Regions from separate parts of the Homo sapiens genome. Here region 2 is linked to region 1. The links come from fine-mapping of genetic effects on gene expression. Tissue or cell type: lung. Region 1 holds a variant in brackets; the other region holds the start of a gene. All regions are shown on one strand. Distances are from middle to middle.

Region 1 (2,748 bases):
CCTTGGCCAGAGGGAGCAGCGGGGATCGGGGCAGCTGCCTCGCCCTTTCCGACATCCCAGACGCCCACACTAGTGGCTCAGTCCTGAGGGGGCAGGGGACACCCTGTGCTTGTTTTTCAGTTTGGTGGTGACTGGGGGTGGTGGTCATCAGCCTGTGTAGTTGCTTACTGCTTGTGTGAATAACCGTCACACCCACGTGCTTTCAGGACTCGGAATGGCTGGTCGCAGGCAGCTCACCAGGTTGGGGTGGGGGTTTTGGTGGGACTCCCTGGAGAACACTAAACGGCTTCTGTCTTCGCAGCCTAACAGGACGTATTATCTGATGGACCCCAGCGGGAACGCACACAAGTGGTGCAGGAAGATCCAGGAGGTTTGGAGGCAGCGATACCAGAGCCACCCGGACGCCGCTGTGCAGTGACGTGGCCTGCGGCCGGGCTGCCCTTCGCTGCCAGGACACCTGCCCCAGCGCGGCTTGGCCGCCATCCGGGACGCTTCCAGACCACCTGCCAGCCATCACAAGGGGAACGCAGAGGCGGAAACCTTGCAGCATTTTTATTTAAAAGAAAAGAAGAAAAAAAACACCCAACCACACAAAGAACAAAACCAGTAACAAACACAAAGGAATTCAGGGTCGCTTTGCTTGCTCTCTGTGCTCCGTGGAGGCCTCCGTGTGCCCTCGTTGCCGTGGGGACCCAGCTCCATGCACGTCAACCCAGTCCCGCCCAGACTAGTGGACAGACCTGGTGTCACCAGTTTTTCCTAGCATCAGTCCGAACCATGCGCCCGCCCTGCCCCAACTGTGTGCTGGTCCTGCTGTGGCCGAGGGGACCGGGTGTGTTTGGCTCTTTATGCCCCTCCCGCTGTGGTCCTGGAACTCTTCACCAGGGAGGGAGCCCTGCGGGGGCCGCAGCTTTGTGGAGGGAGCCGCCGTGCTTCTGTCACCTGCTCCCTTTCTTGCGTCTCCCTGTGATGGGCCCTTAGGCCTGGCTGGGCCCATTACATATCCCTGTGGTGGCTCTGGTGGCAGCTTTCTGTGGCCCCTGCTGTGTTGGCAGGCAGGTTTGCGTGGTGAGGAGCGGGAGGGGTTGGAGTGGTGCGGGAGCAGGCTGCCGAGTGGAGGGTGCCATCGAGGGCTCCGGATCCCTTATCCTACTTAGCAGTGTTGGTCTCTGGGGCTGGAAGCCGAGCGCATGCTGGGAGCGGTACTGTCAGAAGTGAGCCCAGTTAGTACCCCGCTGGCTCACTGCACGAGAGAGTCCTGCCCCGAGCCCTAGGTGGGGCCAGGAGGTGCCTTGGAGAAGCCAGCCAGAGCAGAGAGGGCTGCTGACTTCCGTGTGGAGCAGAGAGGCCTGAGGGCCTCCTAAAAGGTTTAAATGTCCACGCCTCTCCAGTTGCTGAAGTAGGGTCTGAGAGAACCCTGGCATCAGCAGACCCAGGGTGCTTCTGTCTCCTGCAGACCACGCCAGGGAGTGCAGACACCACCGTCACACACGCCCCTTTTGTGTTTTGGTTCAAGTTTCTCAGAGCCCCTCAGAGCTTCTACATCTGTGCATCAGAAATCTCACAG[C/T]CTTCTCATGCTGCCGGCTCATCTGGGCCCATAGAGTGGGCTTTGCCAGTTGCTGTTGCACAGGAGGCGAGAACAGCACACTTCAACCCCAGCTTGCTGGTCGGCTTTCCTCTAGAGAGAGCCGGTTTTGGGGCCATTTCCCTTTGATGCTTTGGTGGCCTTGCCCCGCTCTGCAGCACAGACAGGCCAGATGCATTTGTCCTTTGCCTAGCTACTCCCCAGGTAGAGAGTGCTCCTGGTGGCCTGGCAGGTCTGGGCCCTTCTCTCCCTGCCCAGGTTGTCCCTGGAGGGCAGCCCTCACTCCCTTTGGGGGAGAGGCAGACATTGCTGCCCACAGACCTGCCTCTGACTCAACTGTGTCCACCCTCCCTGGTCCCTACCCCCAAGTCACAGGTGACTCAGCAGTGACCCTGTGTGCCAGGCCAGATCCAAACTGAGAGGGAAGGTGTCGTTTTTACACTGCTAATGACGAGAGTGGCTCTTTTTAGCTAGGCGAGTACAGACGGGGCCTGGGAGGGGGCAGAGATGTTCCCCAGGCCCTGCCTGTGGTTCCTGCCTGGGCCTTGGCTGCTGCTGTGTGAGAGCTGCATGTGAGCCTGTGACCGTGAGCTGGGGTGAGCTGGGCCGCACCTACCCTGGGGCCCCAGGGAGCAGGACGCTCCGGGGCCCAGCACGTTGCCCTGGGCCTGTGGCCGGAGTCGGAGTCCTCTCTCCTCCTCCTGGCTTTTGGAAAGGCTTGGCTGTGTTGGGGAGTCTCTCTTAGCCCTTTCAGGAATTTCTGTTCAGGCTTCCTCCTCCTCATCAGCTATTTTACCCATCTCAGAACGTCCTGTGTCTCCATGTAGGAGAGTGGCTCTCTCAGATCTCTCAGGGCGTCTGGTTATAGGGAAACAAGTGGAGCAGGGACGTGGCTTTAATTGGAGCACTCGGCTGGGCTGCTTGGGGAGACTCTTCCGTGCGTTCTTCCTCTGGATAGAACCACCACCTCCTGGGCGTCACTGACAAGCTCCATCTTAACCTCCAAAGCCACAGAACTAGGGGCTCAGAGCCAGAGCTGGCAGCCGCCAGCCAAAATGATGCCATTGCCTGAGCTGACAGCCAAGCCCTTCTGTGGGTCACCTTTCTCCTCACCCAGCCCCTTGCTCTTCCCTTTTGAAAGGCCCGTGTGTTTTCTTTCCTTA
Region 2 (2,500 bases), 78 kb before region 1:
TGGGGTCAGGCCCCTGCCCAGGGCTGGAGGACTGCAGGGAGGGGGGCGGTTCACCTGTGGGTGGTGACCCGGACCCTTGTCTCCCCCTGGTTGGCAGGCTGCTGATGTCAGTCCTCTCTTCTCGCCCCCAGGAGCTTCCTCCAGCTGGGCGCCGGCCTGAGCGTGGGCCTGAGCGGCCTGGCAGCCGGCTTTGCCATCGGCATCGTGGGGGACGCTGGCGTGCGGGGCACCGCCCAGCAGCCCCGACTATTCGTGGGCATGATCCTGATTCTCATCTTCGCCGAGGTGCTCGGCCTCTACGGTCTCATCGTCGCCCTCATCCTCTCCACAAAGTAGACCCTCTCCGAGCCCACCAGCCACAGAATATTATGTAAAGACCACCCCTCCTCATTCCAGAACGAACAGCCTGACACATACGCACGGGGCCGCCGCCCCCAGTAGTTGGTCTTGTACATGCGCAGTGTCCTAGTGCCCATCGTCTGTTTCCCCGGCCTTGCCCCCGCCCGCCCCGTGCCGTGGACATCTGGGCCCACTCATCGCCCCTCCAGGCCCCCGGCGCCCCACCCCCTAGAGTGCTCTGTGTATGCGGATGATTTAGAATTGTCATTTCTCTTTACTGGATGTTTATTTATAAAGATCTGGCCTGTTCCTGCGTCTGCGGAGCGGCCCTTGTCTCCCAGCTATCTATAACCTTAGCTAGAGTGTCGCCTTGTGGGTTCCTGTTGCTGAGACTTCCTGGATGGAGCCGCCCTCACCGCCGGGCCCGTGGCCCTGCGCGGAGCTGTGTCCAATAAAGTTCTTGGATGTGACGGGCCTGTGTCTGCTCAGCTTGTTGGGGGCGGGGGCGGGCGGGCGGGCGGGCGGGCGCCGGGCGCTGCCGGTCACGTGGGCTGGCTCGATCACGTGGGCGCGGCGGTCACGTGGCGCGCCGCTTCAGTCAGCTGAAGGTCACGTGGGCGCGGTCTCAGCTCTCGGCTGGGGTTCGTCACTGGGCGCGGGATTTGGCCGCCGCGGGGCTCCGGAGCCGCTCGCTCCCGACACGGCTCACGATGCGCGGCGAGCAGGGCGCGGCGGGGGCCCGCGTGCTCCAGTTCACTAACTGCCGGATCCTGCGCGGAGGGAAACTGCTCAGGTGGGCGCGGGCCGGGGACTGCGGGGCTGGGGACCGGGCGGGGTGCAGGGTGCGGGGCCGGGGACCGGGCGGGGTGCAGGGTGCGGGGCCGGGGACAGGGCGGGGTGCAGGGTGCGGGGCCGGGGACCGGGCGGGGTGCAGGGTGCGGGGCCGGGGACCGGGCGGGGTGCAGGGTGCGGGGCCGAGGTCAGGCCCGCGATGCGAGCGCCCACCCACTGCGTCCCCAGGGAGGATCTGTGGGTGCGCGGAGGCCGCATCTTGGACCCAGAGAAGCTGTTCTTTGAGGAGCGGCGCGTGGCCGACGAGCGGCGGGACTGCGGGGGCCGCATCTTGGCTCCCGGATTCATCGACGTGCAGATCAACGGTGCGGCCCGGGGCCGGCAGGGGAACCCAGGGGAGGAGCTCTGAGCTCCATGCGACACTTCCTTTTCTGTGGCTGCAGGTGGATTTGGTGTTGACTTCTCTCAAGCCACGGAGGACGTGGGTTCGGGGGTTGCCCTCGTGGCCCGGAGGATCCTGTCGCACGGCGTCACCTCCTTCTGCCCCACCCTGGTCACTTCCCCACCGGAGGTTTATCACAAGGTGAGGTGAGGCTCCCTGGCTGAGGTGGAGGGGGCTCCCGGAGCAACCAGCGCCCTCATTTTCAAACTCACGCCCCACCCCCCACCCCCAGCACGTATTCCATGGTCCTGAGTCTGGCCTCCTTTGATGACCGGATCTGGGCCTGGGTCCCGCCCCTGTGCTTCTTTATCAGTTGTCGCTCTGCCTGGCCTCCCTAGACCCTCTGTCCTCCGCAGCTGTCTCCACACTGCTGGCTCAGCACCGTCTGAGCCATAGGCCGTCCCCACCCCCTGCACTGCACTCTGGCTGCCTCCAGGCTTCAGAAACCATCCCCTTAACCAAGGCCGCAGGGGATTCTGTGATTGGCACAGCGATAGTCCCTGGTCAGGCTCTTCCTCCCTAACCTGTCTGATGTGTGACTCAGTGGAACACGCCTTCCAGAAGAGACTCCCCCTGCTCCTGTACTGCTTGCCCCACGCTTCCATTTTCTTTCCTGCCCGGAAGAAATTTGGTTGTCCTTGGTCTTTTTTTATTTTAATTTTTACTTAGGTTCTACAGGGTTAACTTTTTGCTGTATGTTACTACTATTCAGGCTCCTCTTGGCTGTACCTGTGCTACTGTTTTTTACTGAACTATTTGAGAGTAGGTTGTATCCAACATGCTTTTTTTTTTTGTTTAGTTTTTTTTTTTTTTTTTTTTGAGACGGAGTCTCGCTCTGTCGCCCAGGCTGGAGTGCAGTGGCACAATCTTGGCTCACTGCAGGCTCCGCCCCCCAGGGTTCACGCCATTCTCCTGCTTCAGCCTCCC

What was found. PIP is the estimated chance that this variant, and not a neighbour inherited with it, causes the effect.
Region 2: AMDHD2 starts here. The variant in region 1 is fine-mapped to the expression of AMDHD2 in lung (GTEx, PIP 0.98).

The regions. Positions count from the first base shown.
Region 1 is chr16:2,597,350-2,600,097 of GRCh38, forward strand. PDPK1 (3-phosphoinositide dependent protein kinase 1) reads left to right here. Exons shown (of 14, transcript NM_002613.5): 14 at 302-2,748. The coding sequence ends at 418. Among named protein-coding and RNA genes, the nearest start is that of FLJ42627, 40 kb to the right of the region's middle. The variant C/T (reference allele first, on the strand shown) is at 1,568.
Region 2 is chr16:2,519,410-2,521,909 of GRCh38, forward strand. AMDHD2 (amidohydrolase domain containing 2) reads left to right here and starts at 962. Exons shown (of 11, transcript NM_001330449.2): 1 at 962-1,132; 2 at 1,360-1,496; 3 at 1,575-1,714. The coding sequence starts at 1,050. It overlaps ATP6V0C (ATPase H+ transporting V0 subunit c), which reads left to right. Exons shown (of 3, transcript NM_001694.4): 3 at 132-809. The coding sequence ends at 336. RefSeq lists silencers at 828-937, 1,108-1,177.